Linked DNA regions of Homo sapiens. The protein of the gene in region 5 purifies or fractionates together with the protein of the main gene of each other region. This does not show direct contact. Each region holds a gene or a part of one and is shown on either strand. Other genes may lie near its edges.

Region 1 (3,500 bases), on a different chromosome or scaffold from region 5:
TATGAACAGAAGACAACAGCATCAAACCCAAATCTGAAGATAATTTTTTCTTTCAAGAAGTTTCATTGAACTTTCTCATTGTTCATACGCCTATTAAAGAGTAAGCTCAAAAGGAAAATCCTATCTACAAGATCCTCAAGACAAAACCTCCAAGTTCCTATCACACCTGAATGGCCAAATATACCTTTGCAAACATTTGATTTGTTAATAAACCAAAAAAAAAAAAAAATCTCAGCACATATGTTTACTTTTCATTGCAAAACCATCTTAAGGTTTGCTGTTACAGGAATGATTCTGTGGGAAAAATTACCTTCAATAAATGCTTATCAAGAAAACCAACAATATTCAAGATGCTGGAATGTGCATTACAAAAAATGCAAATATAAATAAGACAGAGTCTCTGCCCTTGGGGCAGACATCCTCCAGTGGGGGAAGATGTGATACTAATCATTTAATACACAATAGGATATGCTAAATACTAAAGAGACATTGAGTGTGCTATGGGAAATCAGAGGGCTGGAACACAGAGGAAGAATTAATTCTAGCTTCTGAGCTTTCACAGTGAAAACAGGTTCTTTGGGCATCTGATTGAAGAGACATCCACGCAACAGCATGCAATAAAGTAACACAGGTACATGTGTAGTTCCATTCTACTACTAGGGAGGCCTATATGTTCTGAATCTTAAAAGCAAGCAATATTTACATGCCAAAGAAAAACTTTTTTGCTTATTAACCACATAAGACTCACATAACAAACAAGTATCTCAACCTATACTGTATGCCACCCTTTGGACCACAGGGAATTGGCATAAATCATTACAAGCTAAGAGAACCAAGCACCTCACATCCTCAAGCGGGGAAAAATCATATAAAGCTAACTTTTTTCTAAACTGCATTTCAAACCTACCAAAATTACCCCTTTGTGAAGTAGAGGAAAAATTCTGAATCTTAAAGAAACAATTAAGACCCATCCTCCAAAACCCTACTGCACTGTTAGAAAACAGATGGCCGTGGCAATACTGTGTTGGAAGGCTGCCTTCAATTATCAGTCTGGTTACTACCAGCAGATGGGTACCGATGTAGCAAAGCCAAATTCAAGAAGAGGGAGAATCTGGCTAGTAGAAAGTACTTGAAAACTTGCTGGCAGCTGCTCCGTTCATGTATATGCGTTCATTTCATCATTAAAATAAGACAGAACCTGTTGTAGTTATTATACTCCCATCTACCGTGTCCTGATCCTGCTTCCCTGCTGCTAAACTGACACTCTATCGAATTAAGATATCAATCAGAACTAAAGGGCAGCTCCAACCGATCTCAAGATTGATAGGCTAACATTCACACTAGTCAGTGTTAAACTTTGCAAAGCACGATCATTAAGGTGCAACAATGTTATTGATTTAAATTAGCATCATTAAATTATGGAACGTATAATGACTGGTTTGTTCTTCAGACTCAGAATAATCACCCCTCAAATGAGATCACAGATGTGAAAGGACAAACATCTTAAAGCACTTTGACAGGGGCAATGTAGCATTATTAGTAGTATTTCCTCCCAAAATTTAACAGTAGCCAGATCTCTGTAATCAATGCTAAGATCAGCTGAATGAGGTCAACATAGAAGAGGAACTAGAATGTAATTACCTGGGTCGACTTAGCATTTTTATTTTGCAAATGAAAAAATATTTTCTTACTCTAAAAAAAAAATTTTTTAATCAAATCAAATGACACCTGCATCTGGAGGCTTGACAAGAAAGCTGGAAAGACACTGTGCAAAACTAGGTGCGTCCCAATAGGAAGGAAGGAAAAAAGAAGAGAGAGAGGGCACCAGGGAAAGATGGGGAATTTTATGTTTATGTGTTTGTTGGTCTCGATCCATGTCTGTCCATAACTGGAGACATTTAAATGAATAGTAAGCTCAATGGAAAGATTAACATGACTTTCTCTATTCTGGCATTAGCTCCGTAAATATTTGTGTCTAACGAAGAAATGTTCAGCCAATCCTGGGACCCAGCAGGCTTATAATGCTATGGCTATGACCAACCCAAGAATTTTAAAAGGCCAGAATTTAGAAAATGAACATCTGAAAATGGATGTGCAAGCTGCCATCCATCAGCAATTAGTTTTCCACGAGGCTACAGCCACTTAAGACTTGATTGGGTATCTCATTATCAACAATGAGTTAAGCATACAAAGATACATTTTCCTAGGCATCTCCTGCATCCTCACATGATTTGCAAAATTGGGTACTATGCTGGAAAAGCACAACAAAAATCCCTATAACCACAAGCCAGCATTAGAGCTTAGCAAGCAATTCCACCCAGATCAACTTCGCTTTAGGAGCAGCAAGGGAGGCATCATTTCCTAGGGCCAGACAAAACAAATTTCAGCTACTGTGTGGCATTTCATGATCCCATCCATGAATATAGCTTAATACGTCCCCTGCTGGGCGAAGCCTATATACTTGGATAAGGGATGGATGCAAAGAATGTGTTTTTCCCTTTCCTCCTCATCTCTCTTGCTTGCCAGAGCCAGCTCCTTAGAGGACCTAGTGTAATACAGATCCCTATGCTTGGAAAGGTCCCCAGGCAAGTGTTCCCTCATCTTGACTGTCAAACGATGGTATTTTATTGCCTAACCCCAATGCTATGGGGCTGGCACTGGATAGTGGACGAGCAGCTTATCTAAACCCTCCATTCACTTTGATACTAAATGTTAACTTTACCCTTGATTGGGCCATTAAATCACATTTCCAGTACTGATAATTTCTCATTGTGAGCAGCATGTTTACTAAACACAGACAAGGAAAATTTCAGTACAACTGTCACATTATTTCGGCATCCAAAACCTATAAGCGTCCTAAATTTGTTAGTGCTTACATATAATTAGACACAGAAAGATACCCAGAGTGACACAGTAATAGAACAGGCAAAATTATAAATATGAGAAATCTCAAGTGCACTGTCCCCTGATCACACTTTCTGTGCCTGTAGGTGACAGCAAACAATGCTAACATCAAAAGGTCATGGCAGTGATGAAGACCAAGGCAATGGGCAGGTGTTGGACTGCAATAACTGACTGAGCACTTATGTGCTGGGCACTGGGCTAAGCACTTTACATACAATATTTAACTTAACCAAGAATACAGCCTTGAAAAGGCAGGAGAATGATTTGTCCCTATATGCAGATGAGGAAAGTCAGACTGAGAAAGGGTAAGCCACTGTCTAAAGGTCACATTGTGGTAGGTGGCAGAAAAGCAACACAATCTCAGATCTCACTCACTCTAAAGCCACTACCATTTTCCCACTAAGTTACACCACCACTCTAACTGGGTTCATCAGTTATCTGGTCCCAATCCCAATGCAAAACACAAGAGCCAGCCAAACTCTTTGAAATCTTGCTATCACCCTCAAAAGATGACACATACATAAACATAACCATAAATTAAGACAAATATTAACTTCATCCCCAGGCCCGGTGCTAGACACTTTCACACAGATGCC
Region 2 (3,500 bases), on a different chromosome or scaffold from region 5:
TATCCTTTTTAGATGGGCTGTCTGGTTTCTCTTCTCCTGATTCTGAAGAATCAATGGCTACTACTTCTAACTGAGGATTAGGAATTTCTAGGACTTCCAGAGACGAGTCACTATCTGGCTCATCTCTGACACTCTCCTGCTCCCGACCAGTCCTGCTGTCTTCCCAAGTGGAGGTTGTTACTTTCCCCCCTTTAATTAACTTTCCAGCTTTTACTTTCCTTACAGGTTTAACAGTCAAAACATCCTGTTCAGTGTCACTATTCTCAGGAACATGGGCAGCCCGTAGACTTTTCTTCTTCCGGAGTTTCTTCTTTTTCTTGCTTCCCCTAGTCTCAGCTGATGTCAAAGTGGATTCTGCCTGTTGTTCAGGCTGGTCAGCTGGAGAGTGGGGTTCCTTCTCCAAAGGGGTTTCTGAAGCAAAAGACAATCTTAGAAAAGAACTGGTACAGGCTTCAGACCCACTATTGCCTTTGGTTGGCTCTTCCCCTTCTTTATTTATGCTAGAAAGACCAGCTGATTGGGAAGAGGGAGAGTTTTCTCTGTTTCTGGTATTTCTTTGCTCCACAGAAAACTTCAGTTCTTGGCTAGGCTCATGGAAACTTTCTGTTGACTCTGGTAAGGACAATCTAGCAGTGATGACTGGATAAACTGGACAACTGTCACTGATCTCTCCTGAATTGAGAGGAAAAAAATTATTGCATCCTTTTTTGTGTTTGCTGCAATTTATCACTGACTGAAACTCTACCAAATATTTCAATGATATGTTCAGAAAACCATGACTGTTTCAGCTGGTATCTCACCCCTCAGTTTCCCATCACCTACATACACTCCTATGACAACACTTACTACCCTCTGCCTTGCGTGAATCTCACAAACACTGTGTGTCTTATTCCCTACAAAAGCTCCTTGTGGGGAGGGATTGTTTCTATCAATCTTTTTTCTTGTTTTAAATGTCCACACATTTAACATTGTGGTTTATTCTTAGTAGACACTTAAATGTCTACTTAGCTGAAGTCCTTTTACTTTTATTTCTTTGAAGTTTTCATTATCCACACCCATCCAATTTAGCTACAGCTTAGTAGTTAAAAAAATTTGCTGACTTAGAAATGTCAATTTCCTTTGACTTAGTTACTTCATGTCTAGGAATTAAAAGTGATGAAATAATCACAGATGTACTCAAAGACATATACAATGCAGTGTTACACAGAATATGAAAAAAGTTAGAAAACTAAATATTCAAAAAAGATTCACCACATAAATTATTGTTTAGCCAGATTATGCAACTATTCAAATATTATGCAACTTGTAATATAAAATACTTTAGATAAATTATTTTTACAACAGAAAAATCATTATATATTAAATGGAAAAAGTCAGGTTATATATGACTGCTCCTTTGTACAAGTTCTACATGTAAACACAAAAATATGATTTAAGAAAGATTGAAATAATATGTAATACGAAAAATAATAGTACCAAAATATTTCATGTAATCCATAAATATATACACCTACTATGTACCCACAAAAATTTAAAATAATTTTTAAAAATATGCTAGGGGCTGGGCAAGGTGGCTCATGTCTGTAATCCCAGCACTTTGGAAGGCTGAGGCGGTCGGATCACTTGAGGTCAGGAGTTCAAGACCAGCTTGGCCAACATGGTGAAAGCCTGTCTCTATTAAAAATACATAAATTAGCTGGGCATGGTGGTGGGCGCCTGTAATCCCAGCTATTCGGGAGGCTGAGACAGGACAATCACTTGAACCTGGGAGGCAGAGGTTGCCGTGAGCCAAGAGCATGCCATTGCACACCAGCCTGGGCAACAAAAAGCGAAACTCTGTCTAAAAAAAAAAAAAAAATATATATATATATATATATATATATATATATATATATATATATATATATGCTAAGTCACGCGCAGTGGCTCACACCTGTAATCTGAGCACTTTGGGAGGCCAAGGCGGGTGGATCACTTGAGCCCAGGAGATCAAGACCAGCCTGGGCAACATGGTGAATCCCCATCTCTACTTAAAAAAAAAAAAAAAAAAAATTAGCCGGGCATGGTGGCAGGCATCTGTAGTCCTAGCTCCTCTGGAGGATGAGGTGGGAGGATCAACTGAGCCCAGGAGGTCAAGCCTGTGGTGAGCTGTGATTATGCCACCATACTCCAGCCTGAGTGTCAGAGTGAGACTCTGTCTCAATAAATAAATAAGCTATATATTTGATACTAACATCTAGATTAATATTGCAACATAGTACTGGTAGTAAAATCTAGAGTAATTTTTTAAACTTTTTGCTTTTGCTCAGGAAACCACACAATGCCAGTTTGTTGGACTTAATTTTCAAATACAGCACCACTGTGGTAATGCAAACTTCTAACAGGATTTTACATAGCTTAGACGTATTCTCAAATGATAACCAGGTAAGTGTTATTTTTTGAAAAGAGTGAAAACCCTGGCTATTTCTCAACAGCAAGTTCTTAGTAGATGATTCCAAACCCCATCATGGCCACCTGCCTCTCACGCTTATATTAATCCTGGTTTGTATTTGAGATTATATAGACAGTAAGTGCAAAGAAATTCAGAGGATAGACCTTATTCAGAAAATTGGCTGAATTAACTTCAACCCCATTTATTTCACACGAAACAAATTTTGTACTTATCCTAATAAATGGAACCTTGTGGGTGCTAATACAAAGTCAACTCTAACCCTAGATTAGAGGAAATGAAAGAAAATGACTGATATTTAAATTACATTCTCTAAAATATTTTAAAAGAATCCTCCTGTATATATGAAGAGAATTCCAGTGACAAATTAGTTGTACTTGCTCATTTTAGTTTTAATGAGCAAGTATGGCTTATATCACTCATATAAAAATGCCCCAGTCTCACTACTGGGATGCCCTTAACCCAGAGAAAAGCTTACATACTATTAGCTTCCAGTAATTCCTTGGACACATTGCAGGCAGAGCTTGGTGGCACAGCATTCACATTCTCATCTTGTTCAGGAGACATGGGCTCTTGTTTAATCTGAACTGATGAGTCTGGAGCAGGGACACTGCCATGGGTTTGGAAAGTAGGAGACGTGGTTATTTGAAGAGAGGCTCCGGTGGGTGATGGAGACACATGGGAAGATGGAGGCTCCAGAAAAAGTGGGAAAAAGGGAGTGGGCAGCAGTGCGGCATCAATGGATGTTTGAGATCTACTGTTCCTTCGTTCTCGTGTGAGGCTACAGGGAACCTGGTCTGGGTGCTCAGAAGGTTCATATGTTTCTAGAATGGGAAACATACATACATAGAAATGCAAAAATGTTATCTGAAAAGTCATTTGTGTCTGAGCTAATTTGTATTTTTAAACATTAGAAAAGAATTATAAATAAGTATATTAGTATAGTCCCTCATAATTCTCCGAAATATGGAGAATATAATCTCTACAACCACCAAGGATACAGAGAGAATAGGCATCAACATTCTTTTTTTTTTTTTTTTTTTTGAGATAG
Region 3 (4,064 bases), on a different chromosome or scaffold from region 5:
CACTATTCCCTTCCCAGGCCTTCCCAAGAGTGTCCAAGCCCCCAGATACGCACACATCCCAGGACAGGCTGCTCCCAGGTTGCCTGAGCCCCTGACCCTTTTGTTTCCCACTCTATCCCTCCAAATGGCCGCTTTCTGGAGCTGCTTAAAGGAAGGAGAAACTGGAGGGAAGGGGGGCAAGGGGGACAGTATCTCACTGGGCCTAATCTCTGGACAATGAAGAACTAGAGAACTGACCTTCTAGAAGTCAGGACAAAGGGCAGGGCCAGGGTGGGCAGGGCACAGCTGCCCCTCCTCCTCCCCCGCAACCCAAGTCCCTGCAGCAGCACCACCATCATCCATCCACCTTCCCAGCAAGCTCCCCACTCTGCCCCGGGCTGGGCCTGGCTTGGCTTGAAGCCCTCACCTCAGCTGGCACCAACAAGGGGGCTGGGAGTCCATTCTGGAGGGCTGGGAAGCAGGGCTACTTTGGGGAGTGGATTCTGGAGGGGGTCACCACCCCCTCATCGACAGACCACTGGGAGAAAATCCTTCTGGGGTGATTGGCGGGGTCGTCTGGTGGGGGTGGGGGAGGTCCAGGGCTAGGACCACCCAGTTTGGAGCCGGGAGGGACCCAGCAGATTAGAGACCTGGGTAAGGCAGCTGCGCAGGGCTGTAATTACCCCCAGAGGAGCAGGGAAGACACAAGCGCAGAATGCCGGAGCAAGGGCGGCAGCAAGGCTCCCAGACCTGTCCCCAGCCCAGCCATCAGCAGGGGAGAGAAAGCGAAACCCTTTCAGGGGTCTCCTTGTGACTCTCCTTCATGCCTCCCGACGTCCCCCGGGCCGCTTTGGTTTAGGTGGGTTTGAGCGAGAATTTGGACTCGAAGCTGCCCTCTCAGCCCCAGTGCCAGAGCCCCCAAACTCCAGGGTGGGAAAGGGGAGTCCCAGCCCTGCTCCCCCTCTCCCCCAGTCCCCGCGGCGGGTGAGTCACCCGAGCGCTCCCTACTTAGTCCTCAGGCGCTGCGGCGCGTACCAAGACGCGGACGCAGGGGGAGGCAGCTAGCGCGGCGAACTCCTGGAGCCGTGGAGCCCGCTCGGCCGTGGCCGTGGGAGAGGCGCCGGGAGGCTGCGGGCGCGGGGCTCCGGGGCGGGGGCGGCGCGAACGGCGCGGACGGCGCGGGCGCGGGGGGCTGGGTCCCGGGGCGCTGCTGGGGTGGACCCCCCCGCCTCGAACTTGGTACGCGCCAGCGAGAGGCCAGGCCCAGCCCGGGCGGTACAATAGGGTTGGGCCGAGGCCGGGACTGGGCCGGCGCCGGGCGGGGAACGGGTTCGCGACCGCAGCCGAGAGACCCCGGGCGACCGGCACCTCCGAGACTCGCGGGCCACCTGCCTCGACCTTCCCCGGAGCGCCCCCGCCTCCGAGTCGCTACTTGCCGGGCCGGGCCGGGCCGGGCGTGATGCGCCGCGGGACCCCTGTCCTGGCCACTGGCCGCCGCCGCCGCCGCCGCTGAGACCCCGAGACCCCCAGTGACGCCGCAGCCATGGAGAGCGGCCCGCGTGCGGAGCTGGGGGCGGGCGCACCCCCAGGTATGCCGGGAGCCACGCGGAGGCGAGATGGGGGTAGATGGAGGGGCTGCAGGGCGGCCGAGGATGAGGCCGGCCGGCTGGGCGGGGACCCCTCCGCTGCCGCGCCCTCTGACCACTTGGAAGTTTAAAAATAAAGGCTGCGGCGGCGGCGGCTCCAGGCTCGCGATGCATCCTCTGACAGCTGCCCCCTCCCCCACCCCGGGTGCCGGACGCATCGGGCGTCGGGAGCCGCAGGGACCCCGCGCGGGAGTTGTTGGGGTGACCCTTCTGCCCCAGCTTAGTGCCATCTCAGCTTCCCCGCCCCCACGTCCCTTCCCGATTCACCCCGGGCCTTGAAGATCCTCTTCTACTGAGCTAGGGCTTCCGTCCCCTTCCCCATCCCCCGTGGCACATGTGACCCCAGCCTGAGTGTGTCGGGGGTCCATATTCTCAGGCCTGGGCCCTGCATACCGACGCCTCGGCCTTAGTGCCCGTACCCTCAGGCCCTGGCCCAGACCTCGCCCCCACCCCATCCGTCCAGCTGCCGCGCAAAGGGCCTGTTGCTGCTGCGGGCCGGCGGGGAGGGGAAAGGAGGGAGGGGAGGAGAGAGGGAGGTCTCTAGCCGCTGCTGCCAAGTAACCCGCCGGATAAAGGCGAGGGGGAGGGGGAGGCGGCATTGTTTGGGGTGAGGGCGGGAGCTGGGGAGTGGGCCGCCTCCCCTGCAGCCAGGCCTACTCTGGAGCCCACCCAGCCTGATTCGGGGAGGAGGGGGACAGAAGTAAATCTGCTTCTCCTGCCTGCCCTCCTTCCCAGCCTCTCTGGGCCCCAATCTCCCACTAGAGAATGAGGTAAAGGCTCCAAGCCGGCACTCCCTGGACCTGCCACATCATTCCCCAGCCTGAGGCTTTGATACCTCCCCCCTTACTCTCTTTTTTTCTCTCTTTCTGCCCACACCTTAGACCACCAAAGCTCCCCTCCCCTCCCTCACCCCACCAACCACCAGTGCTCAGGACTTCTGCAAATCCCATTCGGATCTGGGAGCAGCTGATGAGGGGGTGGGGACAGGTTTCTGGTTGGGCTTGGTTTTGGAGGGAGGCGATTTCTCTTTCTTCCTGGAAGGGGAGGGAAGAACATGATTATTGAAGACCCAAGTTCTGTTCCCATTGACTCAGGGGGGAGGTGGCCCCATCCCCACACCCCCATGGAGTCCTGAGCCTAATCCTGTCACCTCCCTGCCCCTTGGGGTGTGGGCACAGGATGAAACAGTTCGTGTGGGTGCGGAGAGCCCAGGATAAGGTGGGGCCAATGGGCTGTGGGTGGGCTCCTCCCCATGCCAGCGAGGATGCTTCTAGGGGACTGTCTGGGTGTGGGACCTGGGAGAACAGGGAGGGGAGGCTACCATCAGACTGGTGGGTTTCAGGAGGCTTGTAGGCTGGGCTGGAAACAAGGGTGGCTGGGTCTGTCCTGGTTTGGCTGAACCTGAGAGGGGACACCCAGGGAGGCCCAGCCTGAGTCCAACCTCAGCTTACTGGCCCTCTGCACCTGAGGGCCTCTGGCACTGGATAGTTGGGGGCCTGAATGGGGGTGGTGACTGGGATACAGAGCCTGAGCTGGTGGCTAGTTTATAATTAGGATACTTGGGTAGGATGCCTAGACTGAATATGAGAGCATGGGTGAGATGCTTGGCTCTCCTAGGGGCAGGGGGGATGTTCGGTGGGCGGGGAGGGCTGCGTCAGGGGCCGGTGGGCAGACTGCATATAGGCTTCTTGCATTGAGAGGACTCTTCTATACACAGGGATCTAGATGGAGTCACATGAGAACCTGGATCAGGATGGTGGCAGTTCCCCACACAGAATAGTCAAAGGTGACAGGAGTCCTCTGTGGGGCTTTCTGGGAGTAAATGTGCTCACAGCATGTGCCCTGTGATAGTCTGAGGCATGGGCCTGACACTCCGAGAGCATGTGACACGAACCCTGCTCCCTCTGAGTTCCTTTTTGCACTTGGACACTGAGCAGTAACAGGGGGTGGTGTGGAGTAGAGGACAAGTGTGGGGACCACTTTCAGGTCAGAAAACCTGGATGGAAATCCCAGTTAGCCATGTACTGGCTACTGGACTGGAGCAAGTGACTTACCTCCTGGAGCCACAGTTTCTGCCCCTGGAAAATAGGGGCAGTGTTGTCAACCTTGTGGGGTTAATGTGAGGGTTAGAGATGATTTAACTCAAGGAATCTGGCACGCAGACACCAGACACCTGCAATAAAGTGTTATTACCATTATTGTGGTTATGCTTCTGCAACCGGTGCCAGCAGGGAGGTATGAAATATAGGGGAGGGTGGGAGCAGGAATTGGAAGTCGATTTGTTTAAGAGTGTAGATTTTGGAATTAAACAGTTTAAGTCTCCACTTCGTAACTTACCTCTGTGTGACCTCAGTAAGTTGCTTAACCTAAGTCTTAAGTTTGCTCATCTGTAAAATGAGAATAATGCTAGAAATTATCTCATAGAGACATTGGCATCCT
Region 4 (3,500 bases), on a different chromosome or scaffold from region 5:
ATACAATACCCAACATATTGTAAATGTTGACACTTAAAGTTTCATTGTATTTACACATATATTCTTCTAAGTATGTGTCTTGAGGTTTACTTCTTAGTTTTACTTTAGGTAAAATCTTGCATTGTTTTACTTTTTGTTTACTTCAGTGATGTTGGTAAACATTTTTTAAAATTGTACATGTTCCTCTTAGATTAAGTTCTTAGAGGCTAGTAACTTTCTTTTTTCTTTTATACTTCTTTTAATGCTGGGTAATATATGTTGATGAATTGAATTATGTCTTAATGTAGGACATCTAACATTTTGTAGTTAAAATTTTTGTGATAAGATTATAAGCTTTTGGTAACTGTTTACTTTTTGACGGACTTCTAATAATTTCTTTTAATCCAACTTTCATAGATAATAGGTAGTATTTATATTACTAACCTTCTCCCCTTTCACTATTATAGTTTGGAAATTTTAGCATTCAGGTGCCAGGAATGCAGATGGGACAGCCAGTGCCAGAAACAGGCCCAGCTATACTCCTCGATGGATACTCTGGGCCAGCATATTCAGACACTTATTCCTCAGCTGGTGACTCCGTGTATACTTACTTCAGTGCTGTTGCTGGACAGGTGAGATGCTAAATTTATTGCATAAATATGTCTTTAAAATTATTGTTTAAGAGAAATGTCAGCTATTTAGAGTATCATTTTAAATGTATATGAAATTTATATTTTATATGTATCTAGACTAATTTTTTTCCTGAGATCAGAGATGAGCATAGTCATAATTATTTCATTTTAAAAGTCTGTTGATGTGATGCTTGATACATTGTTCATTTGACTAAAAGAGGAAACATTGTTTTCCATAGTGCGGAAATCTGATTCTTTCTTACCTAGTATGCTTGCGTTACTGAAATTCTTCTACAAGGGGCTCCTCTTACTAGTCACTAAACACCCCACCAAAACTTAGATATATCTTCTTATGAGTTATAATTTTTCTGTCACTTAAATCTTTTTATTTCCTTCACTCTGTTTGACATTTAGGAGCATCATACTCTCCCTGAGTGATAGATAACACAAAGCTAAGTAGGTTTAGCCTGCACATTCTTTTATAGCATGCAAAAATGACTATTGGAAATTTTAGGAAAGTAGGAAGCACTTTAAAAAATTATAAGGAACAATATTTCTAACTTGGGCCTCACTCCCATTTTTTAAAAAAAACTCAGTTAAAACCTAAGTATGTCAAACAATATGATTGGAAATCACTTCAGAGTCTCGTAAATTTATTCAGGTTGAGAAATTACATTTTTTTCACAGGTGAAGTTATATCATTTATAGTAATTTTGATTTGATATGGCTGGTAAATTTTCCAGGTTATCAAAATAATCATGTCAGGATTTATTAATTAAAAATTAAAGGAAATAGTATGTTACGATGTGGTATGGTTTTAGGATGTTATTTGTTTCCAGTAAATTTGAGTGATTATTTAAAGGACTGACTTTATTATGACCAATAGGGACGTGTGAAACTGCCAGTTCAAGTACATGAATTCTGTGGGTGAATTGTTACTGATGATATGTGAATACTGTGGTCAACGGAAGCTTTTCTTTTACTCCTACATAACTGTAACACCATACCACAGTTTATTCTTTTCCAAGTGATTTTATATATATTTTTCATGTGAAATTTCAAGGAAAATTAAGCAAATAGGATATGTATTATACCCCTTTGTATCAGTTATTAGTTGTATTTGACAGAAGTATTGAGTAAATATTCAAGATCGGAAGGAATACAATATTATAAGATGCCAATGTCTTCCAAATTAATTGATAAATAATATAATATTATATGAGTCAAATTCCTAAAGGTTTCTTTTTCTTTTTTCTTTTTGGCACTTGCTGCAATGATTCTAAAGTCTGTCTTGTATACTATGTTGTTGAGAATAAATATTAAATTATAATATATCATATAAATGTATTATTAATAATTGTGATAGTGTGGTCCTAATGTAAAAACAAACATAATACTGAAGAGCCCAGAAGCTTACCTGTGAATTCAGTATATGGTAGAGGTAGCATTTCATATCAGTGGGGAAAGAATGATTCCTGAATTAACTATCCTGAAATAATTAACAGTTTATCTAAAAGTAAATGTAAATCTTCAGCCTGTACCATATAGTAGCATGAATTCCAGATATATTAAAGGATTGAAAAGAGGGTGTATTGATGTTTATCTCCTGTTGTTGAAATAAATGAGCTTGTCTTTTTTTTTTTGCTGCTGCTTCAGCATGTATTGCAGCACCTGCTATATTTGTGTTTTTGTCTACAAAACTTCTTAGAAGAGTGATGAACTAAGATAGTTGCATGTGTTAATGAAACATTTGGGAACATCTTTTTAAGATGTGTGTTTTTTTTTCTTGATATGTTTCATTCACTTGTTTAACAATTTGGGGGGAAAGTTGAAAGCTCTTCTGTGGTTATGGAATACAGTGGATTGGTGCATGGAGACTGGGGGCCAGAGAGGATTTGGAAAAAGAGATCTACATGAAAATCATCTTGAAGGAGTTGGGGCAATGTATCAAAGAGGAGATTTGTAAATTGTGGATGGTTCTGGGACAGGCTCGATGATAAAACAGATTAGGAAAAGGCAAAGAAACTGGCAGAATGGATGTTCTAATACCATACTAATGGGCAGAAACAGAAATTCACTCTAGAGTCTTAGCTGTAGTCCATATCTCTTTTCTTTTATAATGGTCAAGAAAGATTTATTGATGTAGGTAGAATTTTATAGAACTTTAATAACATTTTATTCATTCCCTTGAGTGTTCACTAGGTCTAATGTGCTTTTCTAGGATTAGACAATATACACAGAATTAATATACGTGGCAGACATTCTGTTTTGGCTACCCCAATTTCATTTAAAACCCCCTTTTACCTTTTATTATGTAATAGAGGCTGGGGAACTATAATAGTCACCATCCCAGATACCTTTGTAGCTATTAAAGGCAGCCATGTGCCGTAGGACTGACCATTGACATGTAGGTGCAGTATCTTTGGAAAATCTTTCTACCCCAAATGAAAAAAGCCTTACTGGGAGCAAGCCTTGGCTGTGGCTGTTTTTGCCCCTTCATTCTTCCTGCCTGGAAAGGGGACTTGAGGTATGGAGGTGCAGTAGCCATCTCGTGACCCTGAGACAACAGGCTTGAGATAAAGACCTATAGATAGGGAATGTGGAAAAATGTAGAGACTGATGACATGTCTAAGTTGCCATACAGCCCTGTTCTGCCTAGCCTCAGACCTATTGTATGAAACAATAAACCCCTATTGGTTTAAGCATCTTCAATAATATTTTCTCCTGTTTGCAGCTAAATGGTACCTTAACTGTTCTACTCATTATACCATTGCCATTTTAAAGGATTATACTGGGAATAAGTAGTATTATACTGAGAATAATTCTATTATCTCTGTTTGACTATATAATACATTCATCATATAAAATTACAACTTAAAGTATATGAAC
Region 5 (3,500 bases):
AAAGTATAAGGTTAAGTATTTTGCACAAAGCCAGTCATACAGAAAAAAGCAAAATCAATCTACATCAAGTCTGCCATGCTCCCAAGTCAGTGCACCATGGTATTTTCTCCAACAGTGCATACTCGTAACCTAACAAATCTTGAGGTGGGTCCTATAAAACATATAGAACCTAGCTGCTGAAAAGAGCTACCTGTCTGGGCTGACACATGTGTCACCTTCAGCCCTTCTTTCCTCTAGGAGGTTAAAAAAAAAAAAAAAAGTCGGTTTAATCTGCTGAAGATTATGCTTATTAAAAAAAAAAACAGAAAAGAAAATGTAGAACTTCTTCCACATGTTCTCTTTATGACTTAAAAAAGCAACAGAAGGTAAGCTGATCATGATCAAAGACCAAAATTTCTAAACTCTAGCTACATATGAAACTCTAGCTCAGCTTTGGCTTTTGTAAACACTTAACAGCCGTGTAGTCAGACTAAATGACTTCCAGGGACAGCCTACGTTTTCCAAAACCCTCAGTATAAAACTATAACATACAGAAATAATACACAGCAACAGAATATGCATATTTTCTTGTTACATGTTCTTGAGAGTAAAAATTGTACCTTCTTCATCCACTAAAGTACCTTAAAATATGTGATGTAGCCATTTACTAAGTATTTATTAAACTTTAGAATTTATGTTCTTCCATACATCACAATGGATTTGAACTGACAGAAATGAAACTTCATACTGATAACAGAAGTTACACTGCTCCAAAACTCTGAAGTAGGGCAGATCTTGGTTAATCCTTTTTGCTAAGTAAATCAACTGAAAAGAATGACTTAGATCAAAATTTTTATATTCCATTTGGAAATGAGAACACGTCTATTTCTTAATATTCTGGAACTGATAACTCACCTGAGACCATGGTCTGTGATCTGATAACATCCAGATAAACTGAGAAACAGAAGTACACGTCCAGTCTCTTGATCAGATTTTTCACTCCCAAAGTAAATTAAGTCTTTTCCCCTAGGCAATCTAGTCCTTGCTGCTTTTCTACACATTGCAGAAGATTCTGGGAGTGATGACATAGTTCTTAAAGCTGTTCCTGTACAACAAAATGAGTGACCACAATACGCAAAGGCTGGAGAAGCACAATGCTGCTGCCAACAGACACTAGTCCTTAGTCCAACAATGTCCTTACTAAAACAACCAGAGGTGGAACAACTAAAGTTGGATGCTGTTTCCATTACACAAAGACTTTCAACATTTCTATGTCTCCATTCCACAGTATCTTCAATATCAGCCAAATCTTCAGCATCTAACATCCACACATAAGGAGAAGTGAAATTCTCAGAAGAAACAGGCTTAGTCCAGGGGTGTTCATTATCTATTTCTTCTCCAATGCCCTTGTTAGTTAAATCGTGCAAACAGGCATACTGCTTGGTGGACTGCATGGTAATGTCTTTATTTTTCCACGCAGTTGAAGTAATTTTGCTTGTAGATGTTTTCAAAAAGCCACTTTGATGAGATGTCAGAATTCCAAGAGCTCTGGAAATCTTCTCTAGGGCCACATCTGTGATTTTCTCACAACCAGACAGATCAAGATGCCGAAGACTCTGGCAGCAACCAAGCCAAGACCAACTATAATTAAAAGACAAGACTATTAATGAATATTGTTAAATTTTTCAAAAGCATTTGACTATATGCATGTAGATGAAAACCAGAAGAAAGATTTGACATCTAATATAATCACTTAAGTATTTAGTGAATTATCTATTGTTAAGGTACTATTCTTGATGCTAGGGATACAAAAACTCAATGAGAGTAATAAGGAAGTCAAAGTATTCCTAACCTAACAGAAGGGTAGGATTTGAGAGGCGTAAGGATTGGAAGACTTAAGTTTATTATCCTAAAAGTAGTCAGCAGAAGTAAGGCTGCAAACACATGAAAGAAAGAGAATAACCGACGGTTAATGAGGAAGATCCATAAGAAACAAGCTCTAGGAAGATGGAGCATTAGCTTTAGCCCGAGAAGAGTATACCTCTTCCTCTGCAGCAGGAAAAAAGGTGCTGATATAAATAGTTGGGTGGGAAAGAGGGAGTGAGCAATAATACAGAGAATTGGTGGTCAAGGAGATATACTCTGGGAAGAAGGTGGCTTGAAGAAAGTTACACTATACTATTTCAGAGTAACTGTGAAGAATCTAAGAGGGAGCTTTGCCAAATGGCACTTAGAGCCCAACTAAAACTAAAACTTCTTAAAAACATATAATACCAATCTACATGGTTGCACAGCAGGGCTCAAGGGCCTAGACAAAATATAGGACTACAGAGATTGCAAGATAATACAGATGGGATTTTTGGATCAGCTGGGACCTATGAGTAAGAAGTGAAGAACTGGAGGGTGCTATCAAATTATACTCAGACATGACTGAGATTTGATAGTAAAAAATAATAGTATGATTAAACTGCAATTACATAAATGAAACCTTATAAAATAGTTTTTCATTATATTTAAATTGTTTAAAATAACTAACCTGTCAAATGCAGAATCTGAAATGTCAGTCTGGGTAAGATCCAGATGCTCCAGGTTAGGACAAAGCTCTAAAATCTGCCTAACCTAAAAGGCAAGAAATTGTCACTGTAAAGATCTGCAGAACTTCAGTTAGCTAAGTAACAGATGACTATTAGTAAACATAATCTAGTTCACAAACTTTTGTGAATATAAAAAAAAATCACTTGAATACTTGAAAAAAGTATAATAAAATATTCTGGGCTCAAATCCCTGAGAATCTCTTTTTTTTTTTTTTTTTTTTTGAGACAGAGTCTCGCTCTGTCACCCAGGCTGGAGGGCAGTGGCAGTATCTTGGCTCACTGCAACCTCCGCCTTCCGGGTTCAAGCGATTCTTCTGCCTCAGCCTCCTGAGTAGCTGAGACTACAGGCACACGCCACTACATCTGGCTAATTTTTGCATTTTTAGTAGAGATGGGGTTTCACCATATTGGCCAGGCTGGTCTTGAACTCCTGACCTCATGATCCACCCACCTCGGTCTCCCAAAGTGCTGGGATTACAGGCATGAGCCACCGCACCCGCCCAAGTATCTGTTTTAGCAGTTATGAGACTAAACCAGGATTTTTACATTTTTAAGGAACACTCAAGATTCTGATGTAGGAAGTCGTAATATCCACTTTTATAAAACAGTGATTTCATCTCATTTGCCCATCTTACCATGCCTTACATATTATTTAAAAAATCACATAAAACTGGGCTTTATCACTTAACATCTGTGAAACTGAATAAAATGTTTAACCTCTTCTAGTCAGTTTCCTCATCTGTAACATATAGGTAATGATAATTATGCTACAAAGATTGTTGTGAGAACTGCAATGAAATAATAAGTAACCTAGCAGTGTATGCCTACCCATAGGAAGGCACTCAATAATCATTTTTGGGTTTGTTTCCCCTTAATTAAACTCAGGAATGAGCAAACCAAACTCTTATCATGCTGTTTTTCTTAATA
Region 6 (3,500 bases), on a different chromosome or scaffold from region 5:
GAGAAGGGGAGAGACTGAAAGGGAAGTGGATCCAGAAAAGGGAAATGGATGGACAAATGCTAAGGGCAAATTTGTACTTACGATTTTGTCTGGAGGAATTTAAACTGTCCTTTGCTATTTTTGTGGCATTTAAAAAGAATAGAATATCTTTAGATATAAAACCTTATATATCAATCAAGGAAATTGTATAAAGTGCCAGAACTATGCAAGTGTTTTAGGGGGAATTCAAGAAAAACAGCAAACCTAGTACCCACCCTTGAGGGGTGATTAGCAGTGTTGGGTGTGAACCATGCAGGCACCTGAGGCAGGTATCATAAAGGTCAACGGTTCGTCATGAGTCATCTTTGAGGCATTGCTGGAGTTCAGGGACAGATTCCATTGATGGGGAGGAGCCAACCATTTCTCTGGCAAGTACTCCACCTCTCTCTTCTCTCTCCTGCCTCTCTCCACCATTATCACTCAGACTGTGCATGCTGCAAGCTTTGACGCTAGCCAGGCTGGCTGGATTTGGAGGACTGTGATAACTCCTACAGCTTTTTGACTGGGCTTTTGCTTCATTTGTTCAGGAGTCTTTGTGCCATGTTGCTTCACTCGTAGTACGTTATTCACATATGAGTGATTTCTTTCTTGTCAGTTTTGTTCAGTGAATAGAAGATACTACAATGGTACAGAGAAATTCAGGCAGGTCAGAGAAATTACTAGAATACATTAGATTATTATTTCATAGAATTTAATGAGATTGAATTAGGAAAACAATCAGGAAAGTGACTGATGATCAGAGAAGTCCATGAGGGTAAGGAGGCTGCTAACAGCAGCCCCACTAACATCTTTTATATTCATGACTTGTTGACTAACGGGCTGTCATTCTGTCTCCCAGAAATAGATCAGAATGACTGAAAAAGCCCCAGAGCCACATGTGGAGGAGGATGACGATGATGAGCTGGACAGCAAGCTCAATTATAAGCCTCCACCACAGAAGTCCCTGAAAGAGCTGCAGGAAATGGACAAAGATGATGAGAGTCTAATTAAGTACAAGAAAACGCTGCTGGGAGATGGTCCTGTGGTGACAGGTATGTGTGTACAGAGAACAGGGTGGGTGGAAGATCGCTGAGAGGGAAGAAGACATTTTGGCTGCTCAGGAGCAGCAGCAAAGGGAAGAGGACCAACTGCTTCCAGGAAAAAGTGAGCGAGGCACAATTTATATATGCTGATTAAAGTTATGAACTGTATAATTAAGTCTTCTTAAGAGATAAGATGCAAGTCAGCAGTGAGATAGGCACACATAACACACAGAGGGGATTTAGAAAGAATTCCAGGCTACCACTTAGAATTGTATTTCTCTCTCTCCATTTTCTCTCTTTCTCAGTCCTTACCTAACCGTTCATCTCTTCCACATACACCGCGGCAGAACAAGACATGGCCCAGAGATATAAATGGACAGTGCCCAATTAGCAGAGTACCTGACCCATAGCCATTCAGGAAATGTTGGATGTCAATAATTAGATGGACCTACAAGTGCCTAAAGCAGAAATAACTTTGCTGTAATTTACAAGGCCATCAAGACCAAGCATAGCAAACCTGCCACATCCATTTCTATTTCTACTCCAGATAGAAAGATCACTTTTATTTTCATACTCTCTGTCTCCCACTTGAAATGCACACACCCACTATACACATGTCTCTTCTTGGTACTTACATTCCCTTTCGATCCTGCAGATCCGAAAGCCCCCAATGTCGTTGTCACCCGGCTCACCCTGGTTTGTGAGAGTGCCCCGGGACCAATCACCATGGACCTTACTGGTATGTAGACACATCTGTACTGTTCAAAGGGGGCCTAAGATATCACAAAGAAAACTTGGTCTCTGTCTCCTGTTCCAACAGAAGAAAACTGGTGAATCAGAGAGATATATATGCTAGGACCAGTTAACAAATCATTGCTCTTAGAGTGCACAGTATTTACCATGTTTCATGAAAAGCCCAATCTTTATCTCTATTTAATTGAAGAGAGTGCAGGCATACACATTTGATATATTTACAGATTTTTGTCTCCACATGATAGTAAGAGAATTGTTATTTATGCAATAAAGACTGCTGATGGAAATATTAAGAAACAAATTGTGTGCTTCTGAAGTTATAAGGTTTATACAGTCTAAACATCAAAGTATTGATCTTCTATCCACTACAAAACTTACTGGAAGGTGAGAAGCAATCCGGAATTATACTAGAAATTCCACTGCTATAGATTGAATTGTTTTAGCTTGAAACTCTGATTCTTGTTAAATAAACAACGTCTCCTACTAAAGGCGTACAAATTAAGATGTTATTTTCTTTCACCTTATTGTAACTAAGGGTCAAGCCTTTCCCTGAGACTTAGGGCTTGAGGAGGAGAGAGACTGGGAAGGGGGTTATTGTGGAGGAAATGGGCATCAGAGGGGATATGAGAGGAGAAGCACGGAGCCAGGAGATTGGGGCCTTCAAAGGCAAGTTTTTAGTGGAAAAAAAAAATAGTTACCAAATGAAAAAATTGGACTCTTGTGAGACAGACAAAGCACAAGTCTAGAACAGTTGGCTTAGTTAGCAGCAGAGTAGTTCCCCTCTCACAGGACACAGCCAGTCTTTACCTTATATGGGCTTTTTTGTCAGAGGGAGGAAATCAGAGGCTGAGAAGGCACACTTCCTGTTCAACTGAAATCATTAGAGCAGGCACACACACACATTCAGCTACCCCGACATGCTGACATCTCTCCAGGAGAGAAACTCACGCTCTCTCACCAGAACTCAGAGTCTTCCTAATATTACCAGGTACAGCTGCCAGTTTGCAAGATAAGGTCTGAATTAGCGCTAAAGAAATCTGTTCTCTTCAGCAGGACCTGGTAGTATTGCAAGGAAAACTTGGTCTCTGTCCCCTTTCCCAGCAGAGGAAAACCAAATTGGGTTTTCTGTCACTAACAAGCTGCTATGCATGAAGAAAAGCATAGAGAGTGATTACCTCCTTAATCAGGGTACAGGAATTTGGGACAGATCCTGGTTTTATGGAACCTGAAGCTTTTATAACTTCAGTGATATTCCTTAAGAAAAATAGTATGAAATTGCAAATGAAAATACAAGAGTAAACACAAAGGTGAACATTTTCTTAAAGTGATAAAATGAATAAAAACAAGTAGAATTTTAAAAGCTAGAAAATGCCACAAACATCACCAAATCTATAAAAACAAATAGCTGACACTCCTAAATACTATTTTTCTTATATGTTTTATTTGAGGGGTAAGGGGCATATTCTTTAATAACCTCTTCATTTGACCAGTAATATAATTCTCAATGAGAGAATAAATGGACCAAAAAAAGATTTATCTTCACAACTCATTATTTGTAATGTCTTGTGTATTTTTAGCATTGTCATCAAACTTGGGGGCAGGGAAACTCTCATGTTTTTCATAACAGAGCTGTAAGATTTCAGGCATTAAGTGTGTGTGTGTGTGTGTGTGTGTGTGTGTGTGTGT
Region 7 (4,158 bases), on a different chromosome or scaffold from region 5:
TCGTTTTTGGACAGAGTCTCGCTCTGTCACTCAGGCTGGAGTGCAGTGGCGCAATCTTGGCTCATTGCAACCTGCACCTCACAGGTTCAAACGATTCTCCTGCCTCAGCTTCCCAAGTAGCTGGGATTACAGGTGTGCGCCACCAGTCCAGCTCATTTTTGAGTTTTTAGTAGAGATGAGGTTTCACCATGTTGGCCAGGCTGGTCTCAAACTCCTGACCTTAAGGGATCTGCCCGCCTCAGCCTCCCAAAGTGCTGGGATTACAGGCGTGAGCCACCATGCCTGGCCTCATCTATCCTTTTCTTTTTGTGCTTAGAGAACTTCAACTATCCATGCTATTTCACCCCTATATCCTTAGTACACTTTTCTTAAAAATATCAACATTTTCTTATATAACCTTGACACCATTAACGATGATTTCTAGGTATCTTCTAACACTCTGTCCTTACTCAAAACTTCCCCAATTGTCTTAAAAATACCTTTTTCAGTTGATTTATTCTAATCAAGAGCTAAGTAAGGTCTACAAATGTGAATATTATATCTCGTAAGTCTCTTTTACTCGTGTGACACTGAGGCACTTTGTGCCTTAATAGTATTTCAAGGTCTAATATAAAAAACTGGCATATATATATATACACACACACACTCTTCAGAGAAGAGGGAGCAAGACAAACCAAAATGTTAAGGCCACATTTTAGTAAACACACAGTGTATTTATTTAAGAAGTCATTTGCCCAAAATTCTTTAAATAACGTTCGACCGTAGGCATTTACCTGCTTATATAGCGCGTAGAGTTTTAGCTTCACTTCGTTTCCTGGATCCTTTTTCAAGAGTTTCACTTGATTCATTGAATTTTCAAAGTCCTTCTGACTGGCTCTCATTGCTGTTCTATTCATGTGCAGCTGAACTACCGGGAAACTAGTGACCTGCAGAGAACTACAATTAGGCAGACTGATTTCTATTTGTTCCCAACCCTCACATTTCTGCAGCCTGATTTCTAATTGTTCCCAGCCTATACATAACAAAATGCCATGTTTGTCTATAGATATTTTCTTTATACTTGCCTCAGCAAACTGGCTGCAAATAATTGGCTGTAAGGATTCCAAGATAATAAGTCAATACAGAAGCTAACAGTAGTAACTTTAAATAAAAGGAAAAGTAACCATCCAGGGAGGTATCTGTAAGCAACTAAAGATAAAAGCAGCCAGAACAGGAATGACCATGTAAATTTTGCCAAAGGCAAGAAGTGAAGTGCATGCAAGACAGTGGACAGCAGGAAACCAAAAGGCTAAAGTGCACAGAATTTAGTGAAGTGTCCCAAAGTCCTGAAACAGCCTCTGCACTCACTGATAAGCCATAAGCTATATCAGGTCAATTCTTGCCTCTTTGCTGGCGAAGCTGGTGTTCCAACATACACACAGGTGGAAGGAGGGGAGAATGGATGTGAACATACAAGAAATATTCAAAAGAACACACGAGCAGTTGCTGGCATTCCAGATAGAGCCACAGCCTTCTCAGCAGATGGGAGGGAATCTACCTGCAGTGGAAGGGAGTCAGTGAAGGGGGCTCAGCAGGCGTGCCCCTTTCTATGGGTATGTTTAACCAGCCAGCCAGGAACAGAGCAGAAACAGCAACCACCGCGGGGGTGATCAGCACGTTTTTAAGCACACATAGTGAGCGGGGGTGGGGTGGCAAACTTGAATGCACAGGACTCAGGCCACAAGCTAAAAATGGAGTTCACGACGATGACACTGAATAATAGAGTTAATGGCAAAAAAGATGATTAAAATAATACAGGTTACAAAGCCCAAACCTAACACACAAACACAATTATGTAACTCGAAAATGGTGCAATGAACTCTAGGTTCAAACTTTGGACTATTAGTAACTGATTCAGTAAGATCAGCCTAGAGTAAGTTTTACATTAAAATGATTTTCTGTAAAGGGAAAAACTGCATCTTATATGGCAAATTCCACGTAGAAAACGAAAGAAAAATTTAAAATATCCACAGAAAGCCGAAATGTACAAGTTTCCACAAAATGTGGAACAAATTTATTTTTAAATAAAGCGTGAGTTTTAAAAACAAATAGCAAAAACACGACCATTTAAGAAAATACATAAAGTCGGGAAAATCACTCATAATTCTACCACTTCAAGGCCACCACCGTGTTTCGGTTTTGTTCCCTATGCACAGATTCGTGCGGGTTCCCGGGACCCCAGGGAGGTGCAGCGTGCTTCTTAGCCGTTACTCTGTACCCGGCCATTTCACTTTATAGCATACGTGTTCTCCAAGAAGCAGAGTGTTAAGTCCACACGAGTGATAACGGCTTGCGTTTACCTCGCTTTTAGCAAGCGACGCTTTGCACCCCAGAAGCAGCCCGGCTGGGAAGTGCAGGCCCGGGTGCTCAGCTGGGGCGGCTCACCCGCCCGGAGTCCGGCCCCAGGAGGATGGGAGCGTGCGCGGAGGCAGGCGGAGACCTTGGGGACTGCTGACAGGGAACCATAGCCCTGACCTCCCGACGCGCCCATCCTGACCACTCCGGGCCCAGCGGTGCAGGAGGGCGCGCGTGAGGTCGTCACTTTTTAGCACTACCTCACCGGAAAACCAGCAAAGCAAAATCCTGTTGCCACCTAGACAATAGGGAAGGAGGGTCTTCCAACGGCGGCGACCTTCGCCTGGACAGCGGTATCCTGCGGGCGACCATGGGCCGAACGGCCGGGACTCCAAGCTTACCTCGGACACGAACGCCGCGCCAGTCTCCAAGCCAAGTACGCCATCGCCATCCCTTGGGCGGCTCTAGGGCTGCGGGGGCTCGGGGGTGGGGCCGGGTCTCGGGGGCGGGGCCTAGCTCGGTCTGCGGGGGCTCGGGGGTGGGGCCGGGTCTCGGGGGTGGAGCCGGGACTCGGGGGCGGGGCCTAGGCTCCCGGGCTGCGGGGGCTCGGGGGTGGGGCCGGGGCTTGGGTGCGGGGCGGGGCCGAGAGCAGAGCCCAGGCAGGAGCCTGGGGCATGGGCGGGGCCAGGGTTGGGGCGGGGCCAGGCTGAGAGCGTAGCCACGCCGCATTCGCCATCGCTAGCCCGTGGCCTCCTCTGGGGCTGCGGGGGCTCGGGGGTGGGGCCGGGGGGGTCGGTGCGTGGGCGGGGCGGGAGCTCTAGGCGGTTAGGAGTCGGGGCTCAGATGCGGGGGCGGGGCCGGAGCGAGGCCGGGTATCACCCGGGAGTGGAGGAAGTGCGGGGGGTTCGCGGCGCGGGGAGGGTGATCCCGGGAGGACTTGCGCGGCGCGTGGGGCGGGGCACAGATGCTCCCCGGCCTGGCTCCGAGTAACTGCGAGCTGGAGGCGCGGCTGCTCTCTCGGGCGGACCTCAGCTCTGCGAACCCTGTGGCTGCCGGAGCACTGAGCGCCCTGCCCGGAGTCCCGCGGAGCCTGGCGAGGAGGGGTCGCTGCATCCCGAGGGCCAGCCCTGAGCCGGGAGGTGGGGTAACAATTGAGGGCGTATGCTTAAAAGCTGCTAGGTCATGCATCCCCAAATCGAAGGTTTGCAGACCTGGTAGGACGCCTGGGGGTCAGAAGTGATTTTTGGAGTACCCAAGTTTTTAGTGTCAGTGAAGAGTTTGTGGATATTTTTGAGTTCTGCTGAGGCATTTGCAAAGTATTTTCTTTGGGGAAGAATTCTTAAGAGTTGGAAGGGCCTTGGCTGTGTCACCTTGTCCAGTTCCCAGAGAACCAAAAAACAAAACAGAACAAAACGAAACAAAACCACCCCTCTAAATTCTGTGCCCAAGTTGTCCCATCCAAGCATGCCTAGGAGTTTTAGATTTATGTAGCTGACACCTGTGGACTACCTATAGTGAGCCAGGCTAATTGTAAGTCTTTGGACAACCCTGTAAGGAAAATGATATTGCCCTGTTGAGCTGATGTGGAAATTGCCCTGTTGAGCATATTGCCCTGTTGAGCTGATGTGGAAACTGAGACCCAGAAAGATTAATCAGGTGAATTCCCCAAAGACAGGAGGCTTGCAGGTGGGCAGAGTCCAAGTCTCAAGTAACTTTATCATTAAGTTTCATCAGGTAGATCTGGGTAATAGTGTAGATGGGGCAACACCAAAAGTCAAATAGAACAATTTGGGCTTATCCCAAAGAGATTTTTTTTTTTTTGAG

Evidence for each region.
Region 1: the proteins of FBXL5 (region 5) and CENPF purify together in Homo sapiens (affinity purification with mass spectrometry; one large-scale study listed by BioGRID and IntAct). This does not show direct contact.
Region 2: the proteins of FBXL5 (region 5) and ZNF106 purify together in Homo sapiens (affinity purification with mass spectrometry; 2 studies listed by BioGRID and IntAct, with this or other methods). This does not show direct contact.
Region 3: the proteins of FBXL5 (region 5) and MAP7D1 purify together in Homo sapiens (affinity purification with mass spectrometry; 2 studies listed by BioGRID and IntAct, with this or other methods). This does not show direct contact.
Region 4: the proteins of FBXL5 (region 5) and GCA purify together in Homo sapiens (affinity purification with mass spectrometry; 2 studies listed by BioGRID and IntAct, with this or other methods). This does not show direct contact.
Region 6: the proteins of FBXL5 (region 5) and ARHGDIB purify together in Homo sapiens (affinity purification with western blotting; one study listed by BioGRID). This does not show direct contact.
Region 7: the proteins of FBXL5 (region 5) and ECI2 purify together in Homo sapiens (affinity purification with mass spectrometry; 2 studies listed by BioGRID and IntAct, with this or other methods). This does not show direct contact.

What each region holds. Positions count from the first base shown.
Region 1 is NC_000001.11:214,634,195-214,637,694, reverse strand, and holds part of CENPF (centromere protein F), read right to left. Parts: intron 1-3,500. UniProt on the Homo sapiens protein: Required for kinetochore function and chromosome segregation in mitosis. Required for kinetochore localization of dynein, LIS1, NDE1 and NDEL1.
Region 2 is NC_000015.10:42,439,142-42,442,641, forward strand, and holds part of ZNF106 (zinc finger protein 106), read right to left. Parts: intron 3,274-3,500; coding exon 2,932-3,273; intron 673-2,931; coding exon 1-672. UniProt on the Homo sapiens protein: RNA-binding protein. Specifically binds to 5'-GGGGCC-3' sequence repeats in RNA. Essential for maintenance of peripheral motor neuron and skeletal muscle function.
Region 3 is NC_000001.11:36,154,896-36,158,959, forward strand, and holds the start of MAP7D1 (MAP7 domain-containing protein 1), read left to right. Parts: upstream 1-1,264; 5' UTR 1,265-1,522; coding exon 1,523-1,568; intron 1,569-4,064. UniProt on the Homo sapiens protein: Microtubule-stabilizing protein involved in the control of cell motility and neurite outgrowth. Facilitate microtubule stabilization through the maintenance of acetylated stable microtubules.
Region 4 is NC_000002.12:162,347,132-162,350,631, forward strand, and holds part of GCA (grancalcin), read left to right. Parts: intron 1-446; coding exon 447-611; intron 612-3,500. UniProt on the Homo sapiens protein: Calcium-binding protein that may play a role in the adhesion of neutrophils to fibronectin. May play a role in the formation of focal adhesions.
Region 5 is NC_000004.12:15,624,358-15,627,857, forward strand, and holds part of FBXL5 (F-box/LRR-repeat protein 5), read right to left. Parts: intron 2,599-3,500; coding exon 2,516-2,598; intron 1,621-2,515; coding exon 895-1,620; intron 1-894.
Region 6 is NC_000012.12:14,948,102-14,951,601, reverse strand, and holds part of ARHGDIB (rho GDP-dissociation inhibitor 2), read left to right. Parts: intron 1-450; exon of another isoform or gene 451-685; intron 686-877; 5' UTR 878-889; coding exon 890-1,070; intron 1,071-1,716; coding exon 1,717-1,800; intron 1,801-2,705; exon of another isoform or gene 2,706-2,802; intron 2,803-3,500. UniProt on the Homo sapiens protein: Regulates the GDP/GTP exchange reaction of the Rho proteins by inhibiting the dissociation of GDP from them, and the subsequent binding of GTP to them. Regulates reorganization of the actin cytoskeleton mediated by Rho family members.
Region 7 is NC_000006.12:4,132,776-4,136,933, forward strand, and holds the start of ECI2 (enoyl-CoA delta isomerase 2), read right to left. Parts: upstream 2,801-4,158; 5' UTR 2,786-2,800; coding exon 2,736-2,785; intron 2,694-2,735; exon of another isoform or gene 2,595-2,693; intron 937-2,594; coding exon 774-936; intron 1-773. UniProt on the Homo sapiens protein: Able to isomerize both 3-cis and 3-trans double bonds into the 2-trans form in a range of enoyl-CoA species. Has a preference for 3-trans substrates.